4 linked regions of the Homo sapiens genome follow. The protein of the gene in region 4 purifies or fractionates together with the protein of the main gene of each other region. This does not show direct contact. Each region holds a gene or a part of one and is shown on either strand. Other genes may lie near its edges. The genes, in order: KPNA5, MAP1A, FSAF1 and SREK1IP1.

Evidence for each region.
Region 1: the proteins of SREK1IP1 (region 4) and KPNA5 purify together in Homo sapiens (affinity purification with mass spectrometry; 2 studies listed by BioGRID and IntAct, with this or other methods). This does not show direct contact.
Region 2: the proteins of SREK1IP1 (region 4) and MAP1A purify together in Homo sapiens (affinity purification with mass spectrometry; 2 studies listed by BioGRID and IntAct, with this or other methods). This does not show direct contact.
Region 3: the proteins of SREK1IP1 (region 4) and FSAF1 purify together in Homo sapiens (affinity purification with mass spectrometry; one large-scale study listed by BioGRID and IntAct). This does not show direct contact.

The regions. Positions count from the first base shown.
Region 1 is NC_000006.12:116,722,708-116,726,277, forward strand, and holds part of KPNA5 (importin subunit alpha-6), read left to right. Parts: exon of another isoform or gene 1-617; intron 618-1,589; coding exon 1,590-1,668; intron 1,669-3,043; coding exon 3,044-3,169; intron 3,170-3,570. UniProt on the Homo sapiens protein: Functions in nuclear protein import as an adapter protein for nuclear receptor KPNB1. Binds specifically and directly to substrates containing either a simple or bipartite NLS motif.
Region 2 is NC_000015.10:43,520,583-43,524,152, reverse strand, and holds part of MAP1A (microtubule-associated protein 1A), read right to left. Parts: intron 3,513-3,570; coding exon of another isoform or gene 3,430-3,512; intron 3,182-3,429; coding exon of another isoform or gene 3,041-3,181; intron 2,830-3,040; coding exon of another isoform or gene 2,680-2,829; coding exon 1-2,679. UniProt on the Homo sapiens protein: Structural protein involved in the filamentous cross-bridging between microtubules and other skeletal elements.
Region 3 is NC_000001.11:231,234,659-231,238,228, forward strand, and holds part of FSAF1 (40S small subunit processome assembly factor 1), read right to left. Parts: intron 1-3,570.
Region 4 is NC_000005.10:64,737,623-64,741,192, reverse strand, and holds part of SREK1IP1 (protein SREK1IP1), read left to right. Parts: coding exon 1-136; intron 137-3,570. UniProt on the Homo sapiens protein: Possible splicing regulator involved in the control of cellular survival.

The sequences.
Region 1 (3,570 bases), on a different chromosome or scaffold from region 4:
TATTTCACCTCTATTAAAGATAACATGTTTCTCTTTGCTGGGCTGTTATAGCTATTTTCCTTAAAAAGAACAGCTTTTCTATACAAAGAAGTTAAAAACGTTGAAGAAAACTTGTTTTAAAAAGATGTTGTAACTTCATAACTTCATCTACTTACCCTCTTTAAAAAATGTATTATCTTCCTTCCTTTCTTCTTTTGTCGAGAAGCCATTGTAGGCCCAAACAAGGTAGATGGCACAAAGATAGGTCTGATAAGGAGTTGGGGGTCCCAGCATGAGGATAGCATCAGTGGAGGGTGGGCATGCAGGTTCAGCATGGGGGATCAGGGCCCCAACTTGATAATGACACCCACTGGGGTGAGCAGATAAGCAGGCTGGAGCAGGACTTGGAGCCAGCACATCATGGGGTACCAGTCTGGCTGAGGTAAAAGATTGGCTGATATAGGGAGGTTAGGAAAATAGAAGCTATTTCCTGTTATCGGAGAATAGAGATAAAAATATAGAAGAGGAGAAAGCCTGAATAATTTAATTATTTTAGATTAGAACTAGAAATATCAGTGTGAACTCATGGCTCTTAACATAGCTAGGTATGGAAATAAATATATACATGTGTGTAGGTATGTGTGTGTGCATCCTCTTGAAGGGCATGGGAACAGTAACACTTCTACATTAATAAGCTGAGGAAACTGAAGTTCAAATCGAAGTTTCTAAACACTACTCTCCATTGAAAGGAACCAAGATTGTTGGAGAAATGACTGGTTTCAGGACTGGGACTGAGAAAAATGTAAGATGAATGCAGGAAGTAATGAGTGCTCAAGTAATGGACAGATGTCAAAAGAACACAGAAGCCTATTTGAAGGGGTTCTCACTATCCAAACCTGGGACAGTTTGTGCTTTGAAATAAATTGCATTAATGTATATTTTATTGAATAAAATATGAAACCCATAAGTCCACACTAAAGCATGTAGTTAGAATGATAGTATTAGAAATACATCACTGGTAATAATACTAATAATTACCAATACTTCAGATAATAAGCATCAAGAGATGCTAAAATCTAGTGGTAAAGTAGGTTAAGGAGTGGGATTTTGCATTATCTCAAAGTATTTTGTTGCAAAATATTAATTATATTAATTATAAATGGGAAAACAATAATGGTAAAATGGAAAAGTCTGGCAGACATCATCATAATTAGTGACCAGAATTCAGTACCAATATAATGGGAAAAAACAGATTGGGATATAATGAAAAGGTTATAGCACTTACGATATCCCCCAGCCAAAGTATATAACCTGGGTCTTAATCATGAAAAACATTGGATAAACCCAAATAATGGGCTTATGATCTTCAAAAATGGCAAAATCATGAAAATTAAGGGAAGACTGAGAAATCATTCTGGAGAGACATGAAAACTGGCTGTAATGAACGATCCTGGATTAGATCCTTTGTTATAAAGATTATCAGAATAATTAGTAAAACTTCAATGGGATCTTTGGCTGAACACCCCGCAGGAGTTTGTAGTATTTTTGTAACTTCTGTGTAAATTTTAAATTCTTACTAGTATTTAGGTTCATGTTTTTATTATTTTTAGGCACAATGATTATAAAGTTGTATCACCTGCATTAAGGGCAGTTGGTAATATTGTGACTGGTGATGATATTCAAACACAGGTGAGTTCAAACTTGAGTATCATAAATTGTTAACATAAAGGACTTTAAAAAATTTATGTTTCATACAACTTGATTACATATTAATCAAGATTTTAGCATCACCATAATTGTGTGTGTGTCTGTATCTGTGTCTTGGAGGATGGTGAGATGTCAAAGAAGATGTGCTGTCAAGATTGACTCCAGCCAGATTTGGGTTACAATCTTTTTATTTATTTAGTAAGTTAGTTTAGTTAGAGACAGGATATTGCTCTTTCTCCTAGGCTGGGGTGCAGTGGTGTGATCATGGCTCACTGCAGCCTTTACCTCCCTGGCTTAAGCAGTCCTCCTGGCTCAAGCAGTCCTCCCGCCTCAGCCTTCCAAGTAGTTGGGACTGCAGGTGTGCACCACCACACCTGGCTAATTTATTTATTTATTTATTTTTTAGGGACAGGGTCTTGCTATGTTGCCCAAGTTGGTCTCAAATTCCTGAGCTCAAGTGATCCTCCTGCTTTGGCCTCTCAAAGCGTTAGACTTACAGGCATGAGCCAGTATGTCCAGCACAATCTTTCTTGAAGATAGAAACTTAAATTATTTAACACGTTAGATTCTCCTTTGTTTACCGCCTTACAGTGTATTTTTTATTCTAACCTACATATTTTCTTTCAGTTTTATCCTTTTAAAGGCCTATTTGGATACTAATCATAGTTATTAAATAGTTGCTCTTTAGTAATTGACAGTTATTCATTTAATATAGCTCTTGAAATGAAAATGCCATTCTAGACATATACTGTAATTTTCAGTTGGATTTCCAGTGCACTGCTCCACACTTCTTCACCAGATGAATTTAATGTAAATCATTGGAGTATTTTGAATATAGGAACATAATTAATCTTGCAATGGAATAAAGAATGTAAAGGGACAATGCAGAATATACTTGTTTACAGAAGAAGAGTAAGATAGTAAAAATTTTTATGAAGCCAATTGATTCTACATGCTGTTTTTAATGGTTGTAGAATTGGATTTTCTCAGACTGTATGATATATGTATTTTTTTCACCAATTCATTTGGCAAAACTAGAGGTTGGATCCTGACCTCGGTCACCAAATCTTTTTTCAGTTTTATCAGTTGAACTCTGAGAACATTTGTAAATATGAAGGATACACCTCTGATTTTCATTTTATTGGGTTGAGAACAGGGCAGTTCCTTATAGTGGCAGGAGACTAGGTTTATCAATAGCAGACGTGTAGAAGACAGCAAGTTTTACTTTGGGAGGAATTTCTCCTTTCTTAATTTCACTTTCTAGAATGGGTTTTGTACATCTAAATAATTCATTAGTAGATTTTCATATAGGTTATTTACTATAAAACTTTTTGTTTCCATTTCTAACTTGTTTTAGGTAATTTTGAATTGTTCTGCATTACCCTGTCTCTTACATTTATTGAGTAGCCCAAAGGAGTCAATTAGAAAAGAAGCCTGCTGGACTGTTTCTAACATCACTGCTGGAAATAGAGCTCAGATTCAGGTAACTACCCTTCAGATCTGAGAGTAGAACAGCAAGGTCTAAGAAGCCAGTTTGGACAAAAGTTAACACTTTTACTAAAAAAGATTCCTTTTTAAAAAGATACCGAAAAAGTATTTTAAAGAACATGGGCTTTCCTCCTCTAAAATAATAACATTTACTTGTAGTATTCTAGTGAAGAACATCAAGTGTGTGTGTGTGTGTGTGTGTCTAGCACAGTGCCTGACACATAATGGTTTGTCTTTAGAAAGATATTTTTTTGCATTAGTTTTAAATAAGTTATGCAATAATCTTCCTCTCAAAGCTTTTAATGATTTATTAGGGTTCTATCAAGCTTCTTGTGTCAGTGATTACTTATCCATTTTGATCAGTCACATGGCTTGTGCTTTATCATCTCTAAAATT
Region 2 (3,570 bases), on a different chromosome or scaffold from region 4:
ACCAGCTGATGGCACATAGTCCAAGCCCTGCGTAGCTTCAGTACGGGAGGAAGGGATGCTTGTGACTGTGTCAAGCAGCAGGGAGCTCTTGCCTGTCTCCTCTGTCTGGGGAGCTGTAAGTGAGGCCACAGATTGGTCCTCAGCCACTGATGTGGCAAAGGAAGAAAGTTTGTCACACTCAGTGATTGAAGTGGCCGAGGACACATGTTCCTCTTCAGCCAAAGGGGCAGCCACTATGTTAGTGGGGTAGGTGAGTTCAGTCTCTGGCGTTCCATAGACTTTGCCAGAGGTAGCAGGAACAGCACTATCGGCAGGTTGGCTGGCTTCGAATGGGCCAGCACCTTCAGGCCCGGGCAGGTCATATGTACTTGTATGAAATCTGGGTGGAGCTGGGCGCTCCTCCGGCTCATCATGGATCTCCTCATCTGAGATGGTCTGCTCAGTCTCTGAGTAGCCAGGGATTGTCTCATCCTGGATGTAAGAGACATGCTCAGTGGCTCCTGCAGGTGTGGTCAGGCTGCTTAGGAATAACGAGGTCTCCTTCTCAGGGGCCTTGCCCTGGAGTCCCAATTCCCGACCCCCAAAAGCCTCCCGGCTCCTTGGAGTTACCTTCAAGGGTTCCTGCATATGTTTTTGGTAAAAACCCTCAGCTTTTGTCGCGTCCTCTTCCTCCTCATCTGAAGGGTGTACCTCCTCCATTTCTTCTAACTCAGCCTTTTCTATCACATCCTCCTTTACTTCAGGTTCACTTTCCTCTCTGGCTTCTGTTCTGTCTGGGAGCCTCTCTGCTTCCCTCTGCTTCTTTTCCTCCCAGGTATCTTTCTCTTCCTCTGTTTCAGCCCCAGAGTCTAGGCCTCTGTCCTTGCTGCCTTGTTCCTCAGGGACCTCTGGGACAAGCTCTTTCTCCTTCATCACATGTTCTTCTTGTCCCAGCCCTGGAACAGAGGGTGGTGTTCCCTGGATAGCTGTACTTGGGGGTCCCTCCTCTGCAGTGTCTAGAGGGAATGGCTTATCTCCTAGTCCTGTGTCCCTTTGTTCAGCCAGCAAAGCCCTCTCCTCACGCTTCATCTCCTCAAAGTCCTGTGTGAGGTCCTCTGGTGAGGATAGGACCAGCTCCCTGTGCCCACTGATGGTTGGGAGTGGTACAGTTCCCTTCTGGGCTGGGGGTGTCTGGGGCTCAGAAGACAGCTCCTTCTCCCCACGGATAGCACGGCTCCTGTCTATTTTGACTCTTCCAGGGACCTTGGCTTTATAGAGGGTCTTACGTACCTCAGGAGTAAAGGGCTTTAGGTCTGGCTTGGAAATCTTCTTGAGCTCAGGTTTGGTATCTTTCCTCTTCTCCTCCTTCTTGGCATCCTTCTTCTCCTCCTTCCTTCCTTCATCCTTCTTGAGCTCTTTCCTCTCCTTTTTGATCTCTTTTTTCTCCTTGTCTTTTTTTTCTTCCAGCTTTGATATCTTTTCTTTAAGGTGCTTTTTCCCTACCTTGTCTTTGATCAGCTTTCGCTTCTCTGCCTTCAGTGCCTCACTTGACTCTGTCTTCACCCTCTCAGGCTTGGCAGGCTTCTCTGGGGGCTTCTCAGATGACTCTTTTGCCTTCTTCTCTGTCTTGGCTAACTCCTTGGCCAGCTCTGAACGTGCCTCCTTGGCTCCCTCTTCTACCACCTCCTCCCGTTTGGCCAACTTGCTCACGGCCGTCTTGGTAGTGGCTTTGAGGCTCTCCTTGCTATCAGCCCGCTGTTTGATTTTGCTGGGCTTGAGGTTGGTAGGCACAGCCCCAGAAGCCAGGTCCTTCTGCGTGGCCACAGGGTAACGCAGGAAGTCCAGATGCCGAAGCTTTTCTAGGCCCTCCAAGATCTTGTTTTGGGGAGCATTTCCTGGAAAAAGCACACGCACAATCTTCTCAGTGGGATTGGCTGGTAGCCAGACCACCAGAGCAGTGATAGAGGTAAGGTAGGGCACGGAGATCTCAGCCTCCTTCCCATTGGGCAGCACGATGCCTGTCTTGGCTTTACTATTGCCTGCCCACTTTTGCATGAGGAACTGCATCTCCTTGCTGTCCTTGACAGGGTTGAGGACATACATGTCCAGCCGGCCCACACCCATTTTGTGGAAGAGGGTCAGTGGCTCAATGGTATTGCTGACCACACGATATAGAGGCTCAGCCTGGATGCCCAGGCGGTTTAAGTGCTGCAGAGTGAGGCAGGCCTCCTCAATGCTACGCTTGGCTTTCCGGGAGGCATCAGGAAGCCGCAGCTTCTCAGGCACGTTGAAAAAGACAACTCCAAGCTCAGGAGAGATAAGGTTCTTCACCCAGTCGCTGTAACTGCTAGAGCCCTGGGACTGCTCCTCCTCTAGCTCTGCCACTTTGCGCTGCAGTAGTCCATTGATGCCTGGCAGGTTGTCTGCCCCAATGTGTGTGAGTAGCACCGAGTCAATGCGGTCCAAGTGCCGTACCAGCTTCCAAAAACAGGACTTGCGATCAGAGCCACCATCCACCAGGATGTTGAAACCATTGACAGCAAAGAGGGCAGAGTCCCCACGACCACCTGGGAAGATGTAGCAACAAGGCTTGGAGAGCTTGAGGAAGCCCCCTGAGGTGGGGGGCTCTAGTAGGTCAAATGGGGATGGCACGTCCACAGTCTCAGAGACATACTCGGAGAACTCAGCCACGCCGTCCATGGTGGGCAGAGTGGGCTCAGGGTTTAGCCGGAGGTGCAGGGTCTCTTGGGAACTGGATAATCCCAGGTGGCTCCAATCACCTTCCCCTAAGCAGGACACGGTAAGGAAGGCCTGTATCCCAGGGTCTCTATTGCTGAGCAATTGGGAAATCTAGAAGAATAGGAGATAGAAACCTGATCAGGTCACTAGAGTTGTTTTGGTCTGACTTAGATTCAGTACCCTAATCTTCACCTCTTTCCAAGGTGGACTCTTACCTTTCTGCCAGGGCCCCCCATGGTCATGCAATATGAGACTTTCCCTTAGATCCCTCCCACAGCTCTAGTGCTACCCTTTCTCCCAGACACTCTGGCATGGAACTTACCTCGGGGTTGTGAAGGACCTGGGCAAAGTTTTCATATGAGTAGGTGCCACTCTGTAGGATGAGGTCTCCCCCAGGCTCTAAACTTTGCCCACTCAAGATTAGTAGTTTATAAGCTGATGAGCTGCTAAGAAGATGATGAACCTGGAATGGAAGAAGGGGAGTGGTCACAGATATAGGAAATCCAGGGAAAGGCAATGAATGGCCCCTCAGTACCTCAAGAACATGCTCCCAACTTATGTCCCTCATAACACCTCCAGAGTGGGCTGGAGACAATACGTCAGCTTAGATGGCAGAGAGAGGAATTCTTGGCCTAATAGTGGTAGCACTGGCAAGGGTGGGTATAGCACTTGCACCAGGCCTGTTTGGCAAGGCACAGGCCCTGGCCTTACCTCAGAGCTGATGCTGTCTGCACTGGGATTTACCAGGATGATGGTCTCTAGGATCTCACTCTGGTGGCAAAGGGTCCTCTGGCCTGAGGGAGAGATGTAGGAATTTATATTGAGAATAGGTATAGAAATTGTGGTGCAGGA
Region 3 (3,570 bases), on a different chromosome or scaffold from region 4:
CTTTGGTGGCTTCTCATGTACTTAAGACTAAAGTCCCAAGGCTCACTACTGCCTATGAGACCTGGCAAGGGCTGGTCTCAGCCTGTCTCTCTTGTATTAGCACCAACCATTCTCCCTTCTGTCCTAGTCTTGCTAGACTTCTTCCAGCTCCTTGAACACACCAGGCCTCTTCATACCCCACAATGTTAGCAAGGCTGTTTTCTCCCTCCTTGGCTCACTCTTCCCTGCCCCATTCACCAGCACCATTTAATACAGCATTAGCCTGAATGTTACCTCCTGAGAGACCTCCCTGACCACTACATCTAGACCAGGTTCTGCATGGTACTCCAGGACCCTATTTGTTTATAATTCTTTCTAATTATATTGCTCAACTCCAAAGTAGATTGTACAGTATACTCCATAAAGGCAAAGCACTATTATCTTCTTCACTGCTCCATCTGCAAGGTCTGCAGACAGCAGGCACCCAGTGATTGGTGGAATAAATGGAGGAATGAATATGTGATCCCATACTATTTCCAGCCAAATTACTTGTATAGTCACTACATTAAAAATGGGACATGGGCCGGACGCAGTGGCTCACGTCTGTAATCCTAGCACTTTGGGAGGCCAAGGAGGGCAGATCACGAGGTCAAGATCGAGACCATCCTGGCCAACATGGTGAAACCCCATCTCTACTAAAAATACAAAAGTTAGCTGGGCATGGTTGTGTGCACCTGTAGTCCCAGCTACTCAGGAGGCTGAGGGAGGAGAATCGCTTGAACCCGGGAGGCGGAGGTTGTAGTGAGCTGAGATCAGGCCACTGCACTCCAGCCTGGTGACAGGGCAAGACTCCATCTCAAAAAAAAAAAAAGGGACATGATGGCTGGGCACAGTGGCTCTCACACCTGTAATCCCAGTGCTTTGGGAGGCTGCGGCAAAAGGACTTCTTGAGATCAGTGGTTCAAGACCAAGCCTGGGCAACAAAACAAGACCCCAACTCTACAAAAAATTTTAAAATGAGCCAGGCATAGTGGTGTGCCCTATAGTCTTAGCTACTTGGGAGGCTGAGGCAGGAGGATGGCTTGGGCCCAGGAATTGGAGGCTGCAGTGAGCTATGATCACACCACTGCATTCCAGCAGGAGTGACAGAGTGACACCCTGTCTCTAAACATAAAAAAATATATATAAATGGTGGCCAAGTTCCGAGATGACCCCATGAAAACCTGCTTCAATGCACGATGCAGCTTAATCATAGAATTTATAGCACAAGTTCTGGAAAAATAGGGTAATTTCCTGGGTCTAGGCAGGGCCAGCTGGATTGTTGTCCAACTCACCATCCCCTTCTTCCTTTCTCAAGCATTCTCTAAAAATGACCAGCTGATGCTATGATTGGTCATGGAGATTACCATTACCCATCATATATTTTTGCCACCCATGTCTGTTTAACTGTCCTACAATGGCTTAGAAGTTTTTAGAGAACAAGGGCACAACTATACTTTCCCATGTTACACAAACTCAGCACAGCTGGTGTATTCCAATTAGCACCAGTTGGCTGACTACCCTTTAACTTGGCATACCCAGGATATGCCATAAGAACTAGCATTATATTCATGTGTATTTATTTCCACACCGCAATGTCAACATTCTGAGGTCATTTTACAGGTGTATGTGTTTTTAATGTGTCCACATTCTGTTTCCTTAACCAGACACACTCACATTTTCAAAGGACACATTTAAAAAAAAAACAAGAGGAAAGGGCAGAGAGCAGCAATGACAAATGAAAATTTTCATTAAGGTCAGGAAGTTCAAAACGTAGAGTGAGCTGAGGCTCCTGAGAAGAGCCAACTAGAATGCATCAGGGCTCGCTTGGAACGGGAAGCAAAAGACAATTTGACAGACTGCCACAGATGTTCTATTATTAAGCAACAGGGAAATGCAGACTCATTCAATCCCAACTCTTCTGTCTTTTCTATTAAAAAGAAAACTTTCCATTCCAGAAAAAAGAACATGAGGGAATATAAGAGGAAACTGAAGTCTGAGACATTTGAAGAAACAAGAAAGGGTGCCTAAATGCTTTATGTTAGTTGAAGTCTTCAAATGCTGAATTATATTGCAAAGCAGTGCTCACCAACATTTTTCATATCATGACACATACAGAAAATACCAGTATTTGTAGGGTACACTGGGGTACTGGGAGATGGCCAGCTTCGGGGCTCTGGTTGCCCCAAACACCAAGGGAATCCATTTCTTGACCCTCCCGTAACAGTTCCCAGAGCCTTATATTTGGAACATAAGAGTTAAGAAGCTTATCTAGAATCCTAAAATAAAGGTAGACATGGTTACAGATTCACTAATAATCTTTTTTTTTTTTTTTGGAGAAAGGGTCTCGCTCTGTCACCCCCGCTGGAGTGCAGTGACACAATCACAGCCCACTGCAGTCTCGACTTCCTGAAGTCAAGCAATCCTCTGGCCTTGGCATCCCAAAGTGCTCGGATTACTGGCGTGAGCCACCACGCTCAGCCTGCAGAATGCGCTAACGATCTTTGAGGAAGAGATGCCAGCAAGCTTGATATGAAATGCTACCTGAATTTTAGAAAAGATTATACAGATGGTTTTTAAAACCATAAAGATGTGGCAAACACTGGACACTAACATACATTTATACATTCATAAAGAACAATGCAAGCCAAACCATCTTCGTAGTGGGTAGAATTGTGGCCTCTAAAAACATATGGCCATGTCCTACTCCTCTTCAGAACCTGTGAATGTGATCTTACTTGGAGAGGGATCTTTATAATTAAACATCTCAAAAGGAGATCATCCCAGATTCAGGGTGGGCCTAAAGCAAAGAGGAAGGCAGAGGGAAACATGAGACTCAGGGACACAGGGATGAAAACCACATTAAGACGGAGGCAGAGATTATAGTTATGCAACCACAAGCCAAGGAAACTGTTAGAGCTACCTTCTGGTCAGAGGCAAAGGATTCTCCCCCAAAGCCCTCAGAGGGAGCATGGCCCTGCCAACACTTTGATTTTGGACTTCTGGACTACGGAACTGTAAGAGAATACATTTCTGTTGGTTTAAGTCACCATGTTTGTGGTAATTTGTTATAGCAGGCTTAGAAACTAATACGTTCAATCCTCACTTCTTTGTTGATAGACAAAGGTTTGCAGGACGTGGGGGATGTTACAGAAATGGAATAGCAATGAATTTGTCAAAGCCATTATGATATTCTTGTGAATAGATAAATTAAAAACATTTGGGGCCAGGCGCAGTGGCTCACGCCTGTAGTCCCAGCATTTGGGGAAGCCAAGGCGGGCAGATCACGAGGTCGGGAGATCAAGACCATCCTGGCTAACATGGTGAAACCCTGACTCTACTAAAAATACAAAAAACTAGCCAGGCGTGGTGGCAGGCACCTGTAGTCCCAGTTACTTGGGAGGCTGAGGCAGAAGAATGGCATGAACCTGGGAGGTGGAGCTTGCAATGAGCTAAGATCGTGCCACTGCACTCCAGCCTGGGCAACAGAACGAGACTCCGTCTCAAAAAAAAAAAAAATTAAAAACATTTGGAGGAGCAACCACACCTCCC
Region 4 (3,570 bases):
CTGACTTTTGAATGCCGCAATTTTCTCCGAGTAGACCCTAAAAGGGACATAGTTTTGGATGTCAGCAGTACAAGTAGTGAAGATAGCGATGAAGAGAATGAAGAACTGAATAAATTGCAGGCATTACAGGAAAAAAGTAAGCAATATTTTTTTCCATTCTTTAGAAATGTTTGTAAATGTTCTGTCATATTATATCATGCTTTCCATTATACTTACTAAGATCTCTTTTATAGTTTATGTAAGAGCTACTGCATAGGAAATAGGTTTTAAATATTGTAAGTTATTTGCCTAAGATTGAACAGCTAAGCAATTACAGATCCAGGAGGCAAGTCTATTTCTGACACACAGCTTATGTTTTTTGTTGTTGTTTTTCCCCCATCACATTAGGATATGTGTCAAATGGCTGAAAAAGTGTGATTTAAGATTTGGTTTCTAGTCCTATTTGGCAATTTGTTTTAGCACATGACTTTCACCAAGTGACTTAACCATCCTGAGGCTCAGCTGCCTTGTGGGATAACACAAAATGTTGGATTGTCAAATGATGCTCATGCAGATCAGTGATCTTAGCCAGTATCAAGCTTCACTAATAATTTCAAGTATACAAGTGATCGTGAGGCATAGGCAAAGCAGAGAGTTCTGGGCATGCCAATACAGCTCCCCAGGTATTTCCTTTCTACTTCATAACCCACTGTGATCAATATTAACATAAGAAGTTTCTTTATTACTTATACCAAAGAAAGTTGATTTGGTCATGAAACATACTCATTTTATGCTTGGATAGTTACATTTTCCAGGGAGCTATGCCCCATAAATCTATAGATTCCAGGTTTGTTTACCATAAGCAATCTCAGTTACATCCTACTAAAAGGATGTAAATGATAATTATATAAATAGGGGTTCTATGGCTAACAGATATCATTTATTTTTTTTCCAGGAGATCTATTGTTAGTGTGTTTCAGAGAGATTTCTCCAGGTCACTCTCTGTCTTTCCTGGACACATCCTCCTCTCTCCCTAGAGAGAGAGTGGATAGCGGACCTGTTATTTAACCCTTTCTTTCCCACGTTGTGTATAAAATAGCTCATCCTTGCAGTGGGGTTTTTAGGGATTAAACGTGATGCCATAAATTAAACTACTTTGTAAACTACAAAATGCACTATGGTAAATATCACTCTGAAATAAAATATAACTTATTTGAATATAATCTTAGACAAGGAATGAGAGAGTTACAAATTTTAAATTCATTTTAGTTTAGATTGTCGATGAACATTAAACAGTAAACTTTGTTTTTAATATCAAGCTTTCCATATTATGTCCAGTTAAGGTAAGTGAAGAAGTCAAATGTAAGGTGCTAGAACAAGCTGAAAAGGAAAAAGAGGGAGAGAATCCCAAAGAGGGCAAACAAGAGTCATATCATATATGAGTATATACAGCTTCAGGGTAAAGACAGTTGATTGAATACACACACTTTTGTTCTCTACTGAAATACCACTAAAATGCCAGAAGTAGAAAAAAATTTAAAGACGTAAACTCACAAGGGCAAAGAAACTGAGTTAGGAGGGAATAGCAGTAAAATTTTGGAAACTGAAAAGCAGAAGAGTGATAACTGATTACACTCTTGAAAAAGCTAAATTCTTCAGCAGTGTGGAAAGCTGTGAAGTAACCCGACATATATTCTAGAATCCCCTAAAGACATGATAATTAGTATCCTTGGGTACCTCTGGCTGAATATAAGGCTAAAAACAGGAGGATTGGTTTGAAGTCTCCACGAGTTAGACCCTCAGTTCCCTTCCCCTATGAAGTCAGATGACTTCCCTTCATCACCCCAGCAGACTACTGGAGGTTTATTTTCTAGAGAGGGTAAAACATAGGTTCTTTAGACTGGGACACACTAACCATAGCTGAAAGCAGGGAGGAAGTTAAAGGCTGAGAACTTTCTTCACCTATTTGGTTCCCAGACATATATCACAATTAGTCTAGGAAATACTTCACTCAAATGAGTCCCAGAAAGAAAATTTCGAAGAACTGAAGGACATTAGTTTTACAGTTGAAAAGGTGTCACAAGTACCAAACACAGAGCTAAAAATAGACCCACACAAAGGCACACCATTATAAAACTTCATATCACAGGGAACAAGGAAAATATAATCCAGGCTTCCAGGATCAGGGATTAAACAGGTCATCTGTCAAAGATCAGGAGTCAGAATAGCTTTCCACTTCTCTAAAGCAGTCCTGAAAGCTAATAGATGTGGGGAATGCCTTCACATTTTGGAAGGGAAATTATATCCAAGTCAGAATAATATTTTCAACCAAATTATTAGCCAAGCGTGAAAATAGAATAAAGTTGTTTTCAGATATCTTCATTTTAGGTTGATTTTTATATATGGCATGAGGTGAGGGTACAGTTTTATTCTTTTGTATGTGGATATACACTTGACCCAAGACCATTTGCTGAAGACATCCTTTTCCCATTGTGTGTTCTTAACACCCCTCATGGTCAGTTCATCATATATGCATGGGTTTATTCCTGGACTTCCTATTCTGTTACATTGGTCTATGTGTCTGTCTTTATGTCAGTACAATACTATTTTAATTACTATAGCTGTGTAATATATTTTGAAATCAAGGAATGTGATGCCTACAGCTTTGTTCTTCTTAAGATTGCTTTGGCTGTATGGGGTCTTTTGTGGTTCCGTATACATTTTTGGATTATGTTTTATATATCTGTCAAAAGAGCCATTGGGATTTTGGTAGGGATTCCATTGAATTCATAGATTGCTTTAGATAATGTAGGCATTTTAACAATATTCTTTCAATCCATGAGCACATATATTGTCAAATGCTCTTTCTGCATCTATTGAAATATTCATTTGATTTTTAGCCTTCCTTTCTTAATGTGATGTTTCACATTTATGGATTTGCATATATTGAGCCATCCTTGTGTCCCATGGATGAATCCCACTTGATCATAGTGTATGATCCTTTTAATGTGCTGCTAAGTTTGGTTTGCTAGAATTTTGCTGAAGATTGTTGCATATATGTTCATCAGGTGTATTGGTCTGTAATTTTATTTTCTTAAGGTACCTTTGTCTGGCTTTGGTATCAGGGTGATACCAGCCTTGTAAAATAAGTTTGGAAGTGATCTCTTCTCTCCAGTTCTTTAGAAGTGCTTTGGAAGAATTGGCTTAATTGCTCTTTAAATGTTTGGTTGACTTCACCAGCAAAGCCATCTAGTCCTGGGCTTTTCTCTGCTGGGAGGATTACTGACCCAGTGTCTTTACTTGTTACTGGTCTGTTCCTATTTTCGATTTCTTCATGATTCACTCCTGATACATTTTATGTTTCAAGGAGTGTATTCTTGTAAGTTACCCAATTTGTTGACATATAAATGTTCCTTGTATTCTCTTATATAGTTATATATTTATATAACACCCCTTTATATTTCTGTGACATCACTTATACTCTCTTTTTTCAGTTCTAATTTTGGCCCTGTCTTTTTTCTGAGTTAGTCTAGTTAAAGATATGTCAGTTTTATCTTTTTATTAAAAAGCTCTTAGTTTCTTTGGGCTTTT